4 linked regions of the Homo sapiens genome follow. The protein of the gene in region 2 purifies or fractionates together with the protein of the main gene of each other region. This does not show direct contact. Each region holds a gene or a part of one and is shown on either strand. Other genes may lie near its edges.

Region 1 (3,500 bases), on a different chromosome or scaffold from region 2:
CAAGTTCTTGCATCATGATAAAGTCGTTTCCAAGCTTTCAAATTTTTTTTTTTTTTTTTAGACAGACTCTCATTCTTGTCGCTCAGGCTGAAGTGCAGTGGTGTGATCTCGGCTCACTGCAACCTCTGCCTCCCGGGTTCAAACGATTCTCCTGCCTCAGCCTCCCGAGTAGCTGGGATTACAGGCGCCCGCCACCACGCCCAGCTAATTTTTGTATTTTTAGAAAAGATGGGGTTTCGCCATGTTGGCCAGGCTGGTCTTCAACTCCTGACCTCAGGTGATCTGTCCATCCTGGCCTCCCAAAGTGCTGGGATTACAGGCGTGAGCCACCACACCTGGCCGCTTTCAAATTTTAAGAAATGACATGCTATATATCAAAACATAAAAGAGAATATTCAGGAAAAAAAAAACACCTAAGAAATAACACTGGAAATTAAATAATGTTTTTGGGTGCAGGTCTCAAAGTACTGCATTTAAGATATTCACTGTTTAGGTGACAAGTATCTCTTCAAGGGGTAGTGGGCTAGAATACAGATTTTACACTGTATTTAAAGAAAACATTCCAAAGGATGAAAGACAAAAATCCAACAAATAAATACACATTACTTTTTTTTTTTTTTTTTGCAACGGAGTTTCGCTCTTGTTGCCCAGGCTAGAGTGCAATGGCGCAATCTCAGCTCACTGCAACCTCTGCATCCTGGATTCAAGCGATTCTCCTGCCTCAGCCTCCCAAGTAGCTGGGATTATAGGCGCCCGCCACCACGCCTGGCTAATTTTTTGTATTTTTAATAGAGATGGGGTTTCATCATGTTGGCCAAGCTGGTCTCAAACTCCTGACCTCAGATGATCCACCTGCCTCAGCCTCCCAAAGTGCTGGGATTACAGGTGTGAGCCACCGCACCCTGCCCACATAACTTCTTTTTTGTCAGTCACTTTGATACGCATCCTATCCTGACAAAAAAAATCTTGAAGTTCACAAATTGAAATCTTTTTGAATGCCTCAAGGGTGGCATTTAGAAGGTCTTTAGCAGGTTTAATTTCTTCATAAAAATTCTCCTTTAATTCTCTGTAAAGCTCTTTGTTTTCATTTTTCCAAATCAAGATGACTGCCAAGTACTACTCACTCGGTAATAAGAGTTTTTCTCAACAACTGTAAACTATCTTTGGTAACTTTGCTAAGTACTTCTTATGGTGACAATCATTGATAACTTTGATTGCAGTTTTCTAACCTGGAATGTTGCAGAAAATTGCACACTGAAAATATTACTCACTGTTCGATCCTCCAAGTACATAGTTTTTGATAAAAAGTCAATGCCAATTGTTGCCTGTAAAACAAAACAAAGAAGTTAACAAATAATAAGTTTAATGGTGGCCAGCAGTTTAGGATTCAAATGGGATTCATGATTGTGGAAGAAATAATGAATAAACAAATCAATACAACATAGTCAATTAAGGACAATTAAGGACAAACAAAATTTCCAGTGATAATGATTTTCATGTATTCAGCACTTGCTTCATATCAGAGATTGTTTTAAGCCTTTTACATGATCATCTCTAATCTTTATACATTCCTGCCAGGTAGCTTATTCTCATCCCTACTTTTCTCATTTTACAAATAACAAGACAATGGCAACTTTGGTTTAAATATTTGTATTTGAACTTTAGTTTGAGTATCTGATTGTTCTCCACTCAGAATGGTAAGTATCTGCCCCAAGAGCAGTTTTATAAAATACTGTTGATATATTGTCAACTGTCCTAATGCCATAGACAGCCAGAGACTCACAAACATCATAACTTTCCATAAGAGACATGATTTTTCCAATATAAAATAAAAGTCATTAGGTAAGGAAAACAAGTTTTCCTCTGTACCACACAATGATAGCTTCCTTCTGTGGTGAAAACAAATGTAAAGTTCTATTGCCTGGCTGCTGTTTTCCCTATCAAGAGAAAATGGTGAAATAATAAGAGAATAGAAAGAAGGCAGACTACAAAAAAGAAAGGAAAAAAAGTATACAAGTTAAAAAACAGTCCAGTATTAATTAGGGGAGATAAATAAAAAGAATGGAAGAAAGACAGACTCCAGAAAGAGGATGTTGATATGGACTCTATTTTAGAAGTTTTACCACCTCATTAATGTTTGTGTGCACATATACTATGTATATATGTGCGTGTACATACATACTTTTTCCCTAAATATCTTTGTGCCATATTCCTTAAAACAGAAACTGAGTCTGTGCATTTTAAAATATGAGTCACTAAGAATTTTAAGTTCCTAAAAAACAATCAAAAACTAGATCAGAAAAGTGGTCCATCAGTTGGGGATTTTATTTCTGTTAGCAGAAAAATAGAATTTTGTGTGTGTCATAGTTGAGTTCTCACGAGATCTGATGGTTTTATAAAAGGATTTCCCCTCTCTTTGCTCTGTGCTTCTCCTTGTTGCTGCCATGTGAAGAAGGACATGTTTGCTTCCCCTTCTGCCATGATTGTAAGTTTCCTGAGGCCTCCCCAGCCATGTGGAACTTGAGTCTATTAAACCTCTTTCCTTTATAAATTACCCAGTCTTGGGTTATCTCTTTATTAGCAGCATGAGAACAAACTAATACATGTGTCTCCTTTAATTTCTCCCAGCAGTGTTTTGTATAGTCTTATGCTGTTTGTTAAATTTGTTCCTAAGTATTTTATTCTTTTCTGATGCTTCCGTAAATAAAATTCAAATATATATGTGTGTGTGTATATATATATATATATATATATATATATATATATATATTTTTTTTTTTTTTTTTTTTTTTTGAGACAGTCTCACACTCTTGCCCAAGCTGGTATATAGGGGTGTGATTTTGTCTCAGTGCAGCCTCAACCTCCTGGCTCAAGCAATCCTCTCGAGTAGCTGGGACTACAGGTGCATGCCACCATGCCCCACTAATTTCTGTATTTTTTTATAGAGACAGGGTTTTGCCATGTTGTCCAGGCTAGTCTGGAACCCCTAGGTTCAAGAGATCTTCCCCACTTGGCCTTCCAACACGCTGGGACTATAGGCATGAGCCACTACACCCTGCCTAAAGATAATATCTTTATATGAAAAATCAATGCAATGTTGATAAGTCTTTACATGTTTTTACATATATTCAAGAATGAAAGCTACAGTAAATTACATAAATTGATTATCTACTAAGTGCCGATTTATACACATTGCCCCATTTAGTTCTCATTTATTCGTTCATCGATTATTTATTTATTTATTTATTTAGAGACAGAGTCTCGCTCAGTCGCCCAGGCTGGAGTGCAGTGGCGTGATCTCGGCTCACCGCAATTTCTGCCTCCTGGGTTCAAGCAATTTTAGTGCCTCAGCCTCTCAAGTAGCTGGGATTACAGGCATTCACCACCAAGCCCAGCTACTTTTTGTATTTTTAGTAGAGATGGGGTTTTGTCATGTTGGACAGGCTGGTCTCGAACTCCTGGCCTCAAGTGATTCCCCCCGACCTCGGCCTCCCAAAGTG
Region 2 (6,035 bases):
GCTCCTTCTGACCTCAGGACCTTTGCATATTCAGCTCTTGCGACAAAGTGCTCTTCAAAGCACCCAGATTTCAACAGGGCTGGAAAATGCTCACCATTCAGGGCTCTGCTTGGTGTTGTCTGCTAAGGGAGGTGTTCTCTGACCCCCAGTACTTCAGTAGCTCCCCCACCACCGAGTCGCTTACTAGTTCATGAACACCTCTAGTTATTTGCAATTATTTGAAACAGTTCCTAGTTTCTTATGAACACCTCTTGTTTTCTGCAATTATTTGTCTGGATAATAAGTGTGCCTGTCATCTCCCATAGTGCAGGATTGTGAGTGTTTTTGCTCACTGTCTCCTTAGAGCCTAGAATAGTGCCTGCCCCATAATAGGGGCTCAATGAATTATGTTGAAGCAATGAGTGAATAAAACACAGCACAGACAGTGCCAAGTTTGAACCTTATCTCAGCCACCTGCTAGCTCTGGGACCCCGGACAAGCTCAGAGTCACACTGGGTTTTCAGGTCTCATTATCTTCATCTGTAAAATGGTGACAATAGTGCCACGAATAGTGCCATAAAGGCACTCTGAAAACACTACAGTGCAACATGACCACTGATGGATTATTATCCTTATTATCTCTGATGTTAGTGGAGTGTGGGGCAGGAGGGACTCCCTCCACCCGTCCCAGAGCCACTGCAGCCTGCTCACCTGGAGACACATCCAGCTGGAAGCCCATCAAGGGGTACAGGATCCCAGAGGTGTTGCGCATGCACCAGTATCGGCCTGAGTCCTGGAGCTTGAGGGCCACCATGGTGATGTTGACCACCTTGGCCTGGGCATCGTCCTGCAGCAAGTAGCGGGGCCCTTTCACCCAGACTCGGGCAAAGCCAGGCTCACACTTCTTCTTCCTGATTTTGCACCAAACCTTGCCCTCCACGCGGTTTTTGTAGCCCTTATAGGAGCACTGCACAGACAGAGTCTCCCCTTCAAGGAGCCTCACTTTTGTGTATACACTGTCAGCAGAGGGGCCTGTGGAGACAATACTTATTGAATAAGGTCTGGCAAGAGGAGAGGAAGAAGACATCATGAAAGTTGAAGATCATGGTGAAGGGTAGAGTGGATATTGTCCTGCTGTCACAGAACCCACAGATTGAGGGGGAAATACAGCCCCGCCTTCAGGGAGCTTGCCCCAATCTGAAGGGAGGTGAATGGGCCCTGAAAACAGCTAGCTTCCAGTATTACAGTGGAGACACAACCCCCGCTCTCAGGGAGCTTTCAGTCTGATGGAGGAGGCAGGTATATCCCTCAGTGAGTCCCCAGTCTAATGGAGGAAACGCAGCATTTACACTCGGAGCTCCATCAGACACAGCCCCTTTCCTCATGGTATTTTCTAGTCTGATGGGAAAGTGACAAGCTCTGTCTTCAGGGATTCCCAGGGAATTCATTTTTGTTTTGTTTTGTTTTGTTTTGTTTTGTTTTTGAGACGGAGTCTCGCTCTGTTGCCCAGGCTGGAGTGCAGTGGCACGATCTCAGCTCACTGTAACCTCCGCCTCCTGGGTTCAAACTATTCTCCTGCCTCAGCCTCCTGAGTAGCTGGGACTACAGGTGCCTGCCACCACGTCCGGCTAATTTTTTGTATTTTTAGTAGAGACGGGATTTCACCATGTTAGCCAGGATGGTCTCAATCTCTTGACTTCGTGATCCACCTGCCTCGGCCTCCCAAAGTGCTGGGATTGCAGGCGTGAGCCACTGTGCCCGGCATCCCAGGGAATTCTTGTGGGAAAAACCCAGGTCATGCCCTCAGTGAGACAGATGCAGAGACACAAACACAGGTCATTAAGTTGTGAAATTTCAGTGCCCAACTAACTAGGTAGATAAGAAAATCTAGTATTTGAAAATATGATTAACAGTTATTTATTTCACAAATAGGTTCACTTAGTCCTCTTTAAATAATAACTCTCCTTAGTTCATTCCATCTGGTGTTTAGTTTTAAAATATTCTAGTTACATAAAACCCATAGATCAAGCCTGTCTAAATATACATGTAAACAAACTCCCAATGGAGTGTGAACCACAGGATTCTACAATTATTCACTTTCCACCTGCAATATCTTTCTCTCTATGCTGAGGAGTAAGATGTGGTCCAAGCCTTCATAATCCACAGTCTGGTAGAGACAGAGCAGAACTGGGGTGTGCAGGGTGACTCAGGGGACAGAGAGAGGGAGAAAGCTGCCTTGGGCTCCCTCCACCCCTCTGCCTGCCTTAAGCTCAGCTGACTCTTCTGATAATTTCACCCCAGAGTCTTCCAAAAAAACCACATATAAAAAGACTCTCCCCCATAGTAGAGAACAGAGAGCACACATTTTGGAGTCAAAATAAACAAGGGTTGAAACCCTGTTTCTACCACTTAGTGGTGTGATTAGGTCACCTGTTTGATACAGAAATATCAAAACAGACACTTGACTGATACAGAAATATCTCTGTTTCTTTATCAGTCAAGTGAGAATAGCACCACACCCCTCACAGGTTGCTGTGAGAATTCTGCCCCAGGTCAGTGCTTTGCACACAGTGCATGCTCAACTCATGCTTCCTTTTCCCACATGCTGGGGCCTCCCAGTTCCCCCAATGGAACCCAGAGCTGTGACAGTCAAGGGCCCAGAATCCAGGACATCTGTCCCACCAGAATCCAGGATATCCGTCCCAAGTCCCAGCCAGCAGCCACTAGAGCTGAGGCTCTGTGTGAAGCAGCACCCTCTCTAAGCATCCCTCTGTCCCTTGCAAACTAAACAGAATGATCCAACTTCATTATTTGGTGGATGAGCCCAGGATTTCTTAGCACAAGAGAGACCCCTTTCTGCCCTGGCAGTGGGAAGCTGTTTCTCTACCCTCTGGGAGGTGCAGAGTTGGGTGACCTTGGGATGGGTCTCCAGGGCAATGTCTTCATGTGTGCCTACACCTCCCACCCCTCTCACAGGCAGTGGTGAGTTTTGCCAACCCCCACCATGCCCAGAACTGAACAGGAAGTGGTAACTTGGTTGCCATGGCAGCGAGAGGGGCAGGAATGGGTGAGGTTCCTCAAGGAGCATTGGTATCTGTGAGGTGGGAAAGGCATTCACACACTGGTCCCTTCAGGACAGAGGCAGGGACAGGATGTGGCATCAGCATTTCAAGAAAAATGTTCAAATTCAGTTCAAAACACACATGATGCAATGATTGCTGTCATAACTAAGCAGGGCTTCCTGACAGAGGCCAAGCAGAGAAAGCTATTTGTGTGAGGAAATTGAGGGCTCTGCTTTAAAGCCTGAGGAAGCCTAGCAGATAAAGGAGCCAATGCAGAGAGGGTCCAGAGCTTTATCTTGGCTTGGGAGGCCTGGGTTAGCTTCGCCTGGGGCCTGATATTAGGGTAAAGAGCTAAGTCAGCCCTAATCTCCTCCTTCCCCAACCCACAAAACACTAAACAAGAAAACTGCTGGTAAGGAGGGTAAGAAAAAGGCCCTGAGCTCCTGCCTCTGTACCCACTCCCTCCTCCACAAGTCAGCCCCTTCTCCCCTCACCTGAGACGCAACCCTGTGGCCACAGCAGCAGCAGCAGCAGGAAGGCTGGGGCCATGGTTCCATCCAGCTGGGCAGTGTCAGGCCTGGAGATCCAAGGTGAGGGCCCACCCGACACAGGATGTGCCACCTGGGCCTGCCAGGGAAGGACCCGGGGTTCTAAAAGTGAAGCTGCCCATTTAGGGAAGTGAGGCAGTGTGGGACCCACTGCCCCCAGCCAACCGCAGGGATTCATTGAGCCTATTATGAGGGCGGTGCTGGCAGCTGTTTCCGCCCTTTTCCTCGGAACTTCAGGCAGGTGTGGCTGCTCCACCCAGTCTGGGGCCCCAAGCCGGGAGGACTCACAGTCAGAGGGCTCCCCGCCCTCCCCAACCTCCCCCAGAAACTGGTCCCTAGGATCCAGCAAGGGGGCTGGGGTGAGGCTTCTGGAACGTCAGGTATAGACCTTCCTGGAATCTTCTGGGCTCAGAGACCCAGGGGTGCGGGCTCTTAGGCTGAGATGGAGCATCTCAGACCCTAGTTTCTTACATATATACATTCACAGGGAAGTTCTTATAAACTCTCATTCATTCATTCATTGCAGATTCTTTCTGTTCCTTCCTCTCTCTCTCTCCCAGGCTCCTGGCTGCTCAGAACAGTCACTTGTGTTCACTGTTGCAAATAACCTCTTACAGGCTCACTTGAAATCTTACTTTTGTCAAGCGGGAAAAATGCAAATTGTTAAGACTCAGGGCATAAATTTTGGGTTGAGGGAGGGGTTCCTGTACTCTCACACACAGGTGTGCATGCACATGCACTCACACTCACAGTCTCACTTTGTCTTTTATTCACTTTCACACACACACACACACGCCCATGCACACAGTCTCACACACACCCCAGCAGCCTCTCCTTTTCCCTATCCATACGTCTCCTCTCTCTGTCCCTCTCCCTGCCTCTCCTCCTGTCGACTCTACTCACCATCAGCTCCCTCTAGACTCCTAGTCCCTCGTGCAGGCTTCCTACAGCCTCCGCAGTACTTCCCCTCACCCACCTCATCTCAAGACCCCCTTCCTCCCCTGCCTCCAGCCTACGTCAGCACGCAGGCAAGTGCCCTCCACTTCCTCCTGCTCAATGCTATCTCGCCTGTACAGCCACCAGCTCCAGTGGAAATGACCCAGCACTAGGCCCAAGACCACACCCTTCACTTACCCCAAGGCCTAGAATCAGAAGCATCAATTTTTGATGTCCGGTACCTGTGTCATCTGCTCCTTCAGTGTGTGGGGACCCAGCTGGACTCCCGTGATTATGTATGCTCCCCCTACTCACTAGTGCCATGTTTCTACTCCTTAGATGGGACTGTCAAAAGGTAAACTGAGGCACAATAAAATTTTAAACAGATTATTTCAGCAAACAACAATTCATGAATCAGGCAGCTCCAAACAGAAGAGGTTGAGGAGCTCCACTGGGGGAATGCAAGGGGAAGACTCCTACAGGACAAGTAAACTGAAGAAAATATTTAATTAGTTATAGTTATATAGTTCCCTTATTTGGCCTATCCTGTTGGAAAGACCCTAGTTAATTATATAAGTTTCTTTTGATTGGTTGAGCTTAAGTTCTATTTTTCCTTAATATACACATTTACAAGAAATAGCTCGTGTTAAGTTTCACTGATATTTGCAAATCAAGCAAAGTTGAGGTCACTTATGAGGCCTAACTGTTTTTTTAATTTTTGCTCAGGGACTCTTCAGGCCTGGTCTCCATTTTCATTAATTTTAACAGGACTCAGAGCAAAAAGTCCTCAAGCTTGCATGGCCACAATCTTAAATTGACCTTGAAGCCCCAAGCTCCAAGCAAAGAAGTCTATCTCGGCTGACCCTAAGCTTTTGTAGTCTCTCAACTCATTCACTCACTCATTAATTCATTCATTCATTTGTTCATTCCCACAACCTCATTGCTATGCATGGGGCTAGGTAGGCACTGGGGGCGTAGGAATGAGACACGATTGTCACTTGAGACCTCTCAGCTCACAGACGTGTTTTGTTTTCCTTATTCACCCTTCCTTTTTCAATGTTTCTCACCCAGTCCTCAGAACTTCCTGAGCTCCCTGAGTTCAGGGGCCATCTCCCCTCCCCAGCACACACAGTAAGTTCCTCCATCCCTTCCCCCATCAGAACAGTAAGTTGCTTCAGGAGTGGGGGATTTATCTCTTGTGGGGACTTTATGCGCTTGGAATCCATGATTCTATGAAACTGATACAGTGCGCCCAGCACTGAGCCAATCATCGTCTAAAGTGTGACCCTTGGGATCACTGTGCTGATGAGGGTAGAAAGAATCAAACATTCATTCGCTGATCGAGGAAGTATGCACTGGATTCAATCTTTCTTAAGAGAAATTTGGAAGCATTGGTCAAAATCATTAAAAATACGTATACATTAGACTTTTACATCTATCATTTGATTTAATACAGCAGTGTATTTTGTCTTTATATTTATTTTTCCCATTTAAAAATTAAGGCCTAATT
Region 3 (3,500 bases), on a different chromosome or scaffold from region 2:
ATGTGGAAGTGAAGAAATATTTTTGCAAAGCAGGAGTCAAGGGCATGCAGGTAGGCCAGATGTCAGGGGCCACATAATAGGGAATGTTTGTCCTGCGTTTCATGGGATATGGGGAAGTGTGAGGTTGGAAAGACCAAGGCTGAGAAAGTCTGGGAGGACAGAAGAGGGACTTTTCTGGGGAAAGGCTTTGATTTTCTCTTCTTGCCTCAGCTACATGGCGTTTTGCGGGTGATACTGGAGCCACTCATTGGGGACCTTCCCTTCGTGGGGGCTGTGTCAATGTTCTTCATCCGACGCCCGGTAAGGGAAAACAATGAAGGGGTATGGGGAAGCAGGAGAAACAGAGGACTGGGAGGATGAGGGCAGCCAGTGAAGGGGAATGAGAAGGGAACTGACAAGAAGGCCGAGGGGTTCTGGCAACTGTTTGATGGGTATGACCACACCCCATAGGATCTGTCCTGACCCCTGCTCTTTCCCTCCAGACCCTAGACATCAACTGGACAGGGATGACCAACCTGCTGGATATCCCAGGACTTAGGTATCAAGGACTTACTGAGCACCTGCTGAGTGTTCCAGCGCTGGGTTGGGGGTTTAAGGGACACAGAGCAGTCAAAGATGCTGCTTGTGTCCTCTAGGAGCCTCAACTTCATTTGGGGAGCAAAGACAAATACCCCTGCAAAGTTTGATACTGTGATTTTTCTTTGGGTTGGGGGAGCAGGAAGGGAATGCAGAGGGCTGAAGACTGCAAAAGGCAATGGGGATGGCAGTGAAGAAGGGAGAGAGCAGTAGGTGGGGAATTAGGGTAGAAGAGTAGCACAAAGGATTTTCACAAAAGGACTTTCTTACAGCTTTAGGTCTCTCTTGGGTGTGGGAAACATAGTTGGGGTTAGGAGAAAATTGGAAGTTGAGGCCATACCCACTCCTTTCTACTCCCCCATTCAGCTCACTCTCTGACACCATGATCATGGACTCCATTGCTGCCTTCCTCGTGTTGCCCAACCGATTACTGGTGCCCCTTGTGCCTGACCTTCAAGATGTGGCTCAGTTGCGTTCCCCTCTGCCCAGGGTATGGCCTTTCCCCCACTAGATAGATCCTTCTCTCAGGAACCCCTTGCTGGGTCCTTAGTTTCTCACCATCTGATTCCTTCCTCCAGGGCATTATTCGAATTCACCTGCTGGCTGCTCGAGGGCTGAGTTCCAAGGACAAATATGTGAAGGGCCTGATTGAGGGCAAGTCAGACCCATATGCACTTGTGCGTTTGGGTACCCAGACATTCTGCAGTCGTGTCATTGATGAAGAACTCAACCCACAGTGGGGAGAGACTTATGAGGTGGGAGAGTTGAGCAGCTCTGTGAAATGGGGAAGCCCCAGGAGGTTGTGAGAGAAGATGCTGATTGGATGATCCTCACAGCTGCAGCCCCATGAGACACTCAGCCTTCTGTGTTCCCCAGGTGATGGTACACGAGGTCCCAGGGCAGGAGATTGAAGTGGAGGTGTTCGACAAGGATCCAGATAAAGATGACTTTCTGGGCAGGTGAGACTCTGCCTGTTAGGATTCTAAAGCCCATGCTGGCCAGGCACGGTGGCTCATGCCTGTAATCCCAGCACTTTGGGAGGCTGAGGCGGGCGGATCACGAGGTCAGGAGATTGAGACCATCCTGGCTAACACGGTGAAACCCCATCTCTACTAAAAATACAAAAATTAGCCGGGTGTGGTGGCGGGCGCCTGTACTCCCAGCTACTCGGGAGGCTGAGGCAGGAGAATGGTGGGTGAACCCGGGAGGAGGAGTTTGCAGTGAGCCGAGATCGCGCCACTGCACTCCAGCCTGGGCGACAGAGCGAGACTCTGTCTCTAAAGAAAAAAAATAAAAATAAAAAAAATAAAGCCCATGCTACCGAGGTTCTGGAGGTAATTATACTCACTTTCTGGGCCTGGGAATCATGTATCATTTTCCTTCCTAACCTCCCCACCCCCAGCCCCTACCATGCACATACTCACGCATGCAGGTGAATATCTTCTGAGAGGAATAAGGGAGTCTGAGATCTGCCAGTCATTTCTGGGTGGGTGAGTGGAGGGCCACTGACATGCTGCTAATTACAACACTACCCTTTTCTTCCTTTCACTACCCTCTCCCCCGCCAACCCTCAGAATGAAGCTGGATGTAGGGAAGGTGTTACAGGCTAGCGTTCTGGATGATGTAAGTTGGGAGAAGAGGAAGGTGGGGGCTGATCTCACCCTTTGGGTAGATAGTAGTTGCTACATTGGTAGGGAAGTAGTTGAGCAGGTATCTGATCTCTACTACATCTCAATTTCTTCTAGTGGTTCCCTCTACAAGGTGGGCAAGGCCAAGTTCACTTGAGGCTAGAATGGCTGTCACTTTTGTCAGATGCAGAGAAACTGGAGCAGGTAAGCCACATGGGAAATAGGAAGCTGGCAGGGGAGAAATAGGTAGCTGGAAGTGTAGGGGACTTGGAACGGGGACCAAGATCTGACTACTACCACCCCTCCCCAGGTTCTACAGTGGAATTGGGGAGTCTCCTCTCGACCAGATCCCCCGTCAGCTGCCATCTTAGTTGTCTACCTGGATCGGGCCCAGGATCTTCCTGTGAGTTTGGCTGGGTGAACAGGAGCCCTGGATGTAACATTCCCCAACCCTGCCTTGCTGAGGATGCAAATGTCCCTGCCTGCTTTGCTCCAGAAGTATCAGCATGTAACATAAGGGTCCCAGGGAGGGGATCAGATCCATCTCAGGGAAAGGATTCTGATGCGATCCCACCTTCCTTCACCAAAACCAAAACCGAATCCCCCAAGATGGTGACCTCTGAATTGTACCCACCACAGCTGAAGAAGGGGAACAAGGAACCCAACCCTATGGTACAACTGTCAATTCAGGATGTGACTCAGGAGAGCAAGGTGAGGGCCAGGACATCATTGTGGGTGGCCAGGTAGGACAGGGAGAGGCCTATTCTTGGGATGGTTTCCCCTTTAGAATGCCTGTTACATGCAGGGGTTTTCTGCAGAAACAGGAATGGTGCTGTGGTATACACCCTTAATCCCTCCTCTACATCTCCAGGCTGTCTACAGTACCAACTGCCCAGTGTGGGAGGAAGCGTTCCGGTTCTTCCTACAAGACCCTCAAAGCCAGGAGCTCGATGTGCAAGTGAGATAATCACCTCTTCATCCCCTCCCGAATACCCTATTCTGACTTCCCAGATCTGTACCATTTCTCCTCTCCTTCTTTTCCCTTGATTCCTATTTTTAATCCATCTACCTAGACTCCCCACCTCCCTGAATATCTCTCCATTGTTCCCCAACTGTCGCTCCAGAATAATATTTTTTTTTTTTTTTGAGATGGAGTCTCGCTCTGTTGCCCAGGCTGGGGTGCAGTGGTGCGATCTCGGCTTACCGAAACCTCCACCACCTGGGTTCAAGCAATTCTCCTGCCTCAGCCTCCCGAGTAGCTGGGATTACAGGCAGGCACCACCATGCCCGGCTAAT
Region 4 (3,500 bases), on a different chromosome or scaffold from region 2:
CCATGACATTAAAAACGTGTCCTCAGGAACCAATAGGATATGCTGGGGAAAAGAAACCTAAGAATTAGTTGGCCAAATAATTTACATGATATGAAAGATGAAGAAATGATAATGTCGAAGGCCTGAACCATTTAGCTTTGTAGAAAATGTCACCTTTTAGGTTGAACTGGTTTCCCTGATTAAAAGGTGATCTTGGCTGGGCGTGGTGGCTCACGCCTATAATCCCAGCACTTTGGGAGGCCGAGGTGGGAGGATCACTTGAGGTCAGGAGCTCGATACAAGCCTGGCCAACTTGGTGAAACCCCATCTCCATTAAAAATACAAACATTAGGCTGGGCATGGTGGTGCATGTGTGTAATCCCAGCTACTCAGGAAGCTGAGCCAGGAGAATCACTTGAACTTGGAAGGCAGAGGCTGCAGTGAGCCAAGATCATGCCACTGCACTCCAGCCTGGGTGACAGAGCGAGACTCTGTCTCAAAAATAAATAAATAAATAAAAATAAAAGGTGATCTTGCAGGAATGAAAACATCTTTTCCAGCCTCAAAGTTTCTGAGAATAAACTGTATGGATAATGTTCTTTTCCCTTTTGGCCTTCCTAGAGGTTCCCATTACTAAGATTTCTGTGCATATGGATATATACAGAGGTGTGAAGAGTTACCTAATTCAGGGGTTTACAAGTGCTCTGAACTCTGGAGAGAATTTGGAGAAAAGCCATCAAGTTGATTAAAGAAATTAATGAAGCAATAAACAACAAGAAGCAATAAACTATTATTGCATGGGAAAATGGACAGGAAATCTTAATACACTGTAGTAAGGACAGTGACTAATTATTCTTCCACTCTTCTTAAGATGGTGAAAGAACTAACAGACTAAAACTACGGAGTTCATACGAAGAATTCCCTAAGAATGAGGTCTGTTAAAAGGTGGTGGATTATTCTTTGATCAATTTTTCAAAAAGAATCCTATGACGTGTGTCTAAGGGTTGCTTTACGAAGTGCTTGATCTAAACCACCTGAGTCCTCTACCATCATATGAAAATGTCTTCCTCAGAAACTTTGATAACTCTATTAGATGCTGATTTAAACACCACAACAATTTTAGACTAATTCAGTCCTGACATGCCATTCTAAGAAAATATGGAACAAGTTTATTTTTTCTTACATTTTATAATCATCATCCTTACCTGTCCATGGGTATCGCCTGCAGACTTGCCAGCCTCAAATTTTAAGGCCAACCCAAAGTCAGCAATGCAAGCTGTCAGGTTGTTTTTCAACAGCACATTTTTACTTTTGATGTCCCTTGCAAATAAAAAGAGTATTCAAATTAAGTTTAAACTAGTTACCTTTTTAAATTTTTTATTGAAAGCAGAAAAGGGGGAATATGTACACTATGAAAAAATAGTTACTTAAAATTATGAAATGCAGAGAAAGTGAGACAAACAAAGCTCAGAGCCCCATGCAGCCTTAAACACAAGAGCACGGTGACAAACCCCTATTCATAACATGGACAATAAGAAGGAATCCTACCTATAAAGCAGTTATATAAAAATCTGCCATACCAAAAAGATATGTTATCTATGTCACCCACCTACCAATCATAAAACTACTGTTAATATCTCAGAGTTCTGATTTGCAAACTCCCATAGAAACAGAAATTTTAAACCAAAATGAAGAAACTTTTAAAAAATAGCTGAATTGGGGCCTTCTGCTTATTGGTAGAGACCTACATTTTAGAATAATCCCTTATTATAGAGGTTCTTATATTCTTCCACCTGGTTGTAGAAAAGCATCTTATGGAATGAATAACAGAAACTTTTTACCATAAACATACACTGCTCTAGCTAGATCCTGGTGTTCTGAAAAGGGTAACAGTTTTAAGGCAGTAAGATATCCTCTTCTACACACCTGTCTCAACTGGCTCATCCTAGAGATTACTATACCCTAGTTAAATACATCTATGCCAATGACTAGTGGTTAAATTTATGTGCAGACATATAGACCAATAATGGGATACTGAAAGCACAAGCAGACACTCCCAAATGCTATAAAAGCTAATCGATCTTAGTTTCAAAAGACTTTCAGGCCCTTAATAACTTTGGGGGTCCTTAAGGATTAATTCCCTATGTGACCAGGTAGGGCAAGGGAAAATCGAAGACGAGGCCAATAGACTGCATGTAAGAAAGTGAGAAGAGTTATTTCTGAGGTAGACGTCATTTAAAGTTTGCAAAATCAGAACCTAAATTAGAGGCTGACTTACAATAATGCCTCCCAGCAACCTAAAACATCGCCTGGTGGCACTCAGCTAAGTATCTGTTCTGTGAATCAGTTAATGCCTACTTTTCAAACAACCATCTTTAAATGGAACACAAGACAACAAATTGAATCCCACGTTCAAGAAAATTAAATACATGGCAAACTGAATTCCATGTTTAAGACACAATCATTTTTCCTTTTGCGGGCATGACAACTGTTGGGTCTAAGTAGTATTTCTTCACTGGACAACTGTTTTAAGTGATGCCTCCCTTTAAGACTTGGCTCAGGGTACAGATAAGGTCATTCAAAAAACAAGCAAGGAAGACATTCAAAGTCTCTCCTTCATTACATGCCCTTGGATAATAATCCCTATTGATAAATCATGTTTTGAGGTAAAACAAATGTCTTTTTCCTTTGAGATCGAGAAAATATAGTTTATTTTCAATCATGCTTTCAGAAATGAGATGAAGTAGATCATTAAACTTTACCAATAATGTTAACATATACATTATCCAAAATACTTCCTGGCCAATCTCAAAGCTAATTTTAAAAAACAAATGAAAACTGACTGTCTTGTAAAGCATGATTGCATAACAAAGGAAAAATTAAAATTTACCCAGGGGCTTAAAAGTTTAGTAAATATATACTCAATTATCTGGGAAAACAATATAAATTTAGTCTACCTGTGAGATATGGCAGGTTTGTGGCCATCTTTTAGGCCAGGTATATCCTCATGTAAATATGCCAATCCTCTAGCCATGGTTTCTGCAATATGACACAGTTCATTCCAAGAGACCACATTAGCCTTAAGAAAGTCTGATAGTGAACCCTAAAAAAAGAGGGAAAAAAAGAAACTTATGTTCTTGACAAAGGCCATATGTATAAGGAGACTTTTCTTTTTACCTATAAGAGGTTGTGAGTTTCCCTTTCAGGGAAAAATAATATCCAAGAAACAATCTTTCTGGAATGGTTCAAATGGTTCAAATTTCCTTCCATTTCACATTAATAAACATTTGACCAGAAGGAAATACCAGAGCTTTAAACTTTTGTTACAAGAATAGTCAACTTCCACCAATCTATAAGACAAGTTTGTTTTTTTTTTTTTTTAAAGACTAGTTGAAAATCTAAGGTTCTAGAAAATATTTTAAAAGTTAAAATATCCTGACTATAGAGTTGTTATATCATGGGACTAGCAGAACACAAAATAACAACATAAAATAACAACTAATATGTAGAATATTCCTCTA

Evidence for each region.
Region 1: the proteins of TREML2 (region 2) and RAB6A purify together in Homo sapiens (affinity purification with mass spectrometry, with the first as the bait; one large-scale study listed by BioGRID). This does not show direct contact.
Region 3: the proteins of TREML2 (region 2) and ESYT1 purify together in Homo sapiens (affinity purification with mass spectrometry; 2 studies listed by BioGRID and IntAct, with this or other methods). This does not show direct contact.
Region 4: the proteins of TREML2 (region 2) and ACVR2A purify together in Homo sapiens (affinity purification with mass spectrometry; one large-scale study listed by BioGRID and IntAct). This does not show direct contact.

Annotation. Positions count from the first base shown.
Region 1 is NC_000011.10:73,719,575-73,723,074, forward strand, and holds part of RAB6A (ras-related protein Rab-6A), read right to left. Parts: intron 1,326-3,500; coding exon 1,272-1,325; intron 1-1,271. UniProt on the Homo sapiens protein: The small GTPases Rab are key regulators of intracellular membrane trafficking, from the formation of transport vesicles to their fusion with membranes.
Region 2 is NC_000006.12:41,197,419-41,203,453, forward strand, and holds the start of TREML2 (trem-like transcript 2 protein precursor), read right to left. Parts: upstream 3,732-6,035; 5' UTR 3,591-3,731; coding exon 3,536-3,590; intron 1,012-3,535; coding exon 691-1,011; intron 1-690. UniProt on the Homo sapiens protein: Cell surface receptor that may play a role in the innate and adaptive immune response. Acts as a counter-receptor for CD276 and interaction with CD276 on T-cells enhances T-cell activation.
Region 3 is NC_000012.12:56,131,267-56,134,766, forward strand, and holds part of ESYT1 (extended synaptotagmin-1), read left to right. Parts: coding exon 1-50; intron 51-210; coding exon 211-300; intron 301-482; coding exon 483-538; intron 539-942; coding exon 943-1,066; intron 1,067-1,154; coding exon 1,155-1,331; intron 1,332-1,452; coding exon 1,453-1,535; intron 1,536-2,150; coding exon 2,151-2,199; intron 2,200-2,321; coding exon 2,322-2,408; intron 2,409-2,514; coding exon 2,515-2,607; intron 2,608-2,813; coding exon of another isoform or gene 2,814-2,843; coding exon 2,844-2,915; intron 2,916-3,075; coding exon 3,076-3,162; intron 3,163-3,500. UniProt on the Homo sapiens protein: Binds calcium (via the C2 domains) and translocates to sites of contact between the endoplasmic reticulum and the cell membrane in response to increased cytosolic calcium levels.
Region 4 is NC_000002.12:147,918,029-147,921,528, reverse strand, and holds part of ACVR2A (activin receptor type-2A isoform 1 precursor), read right to left. Parts: intron 3,083-3,500; coding exon 2,937-3,082; intron 1,300-2,936; coding exon 1,185-1,299; intron 1-1,184. UniProt on the Homo sapiens protein: On ligand binding, forms a receptor complex consisting of two type II and two type I transmembrane serine/threonine kinases.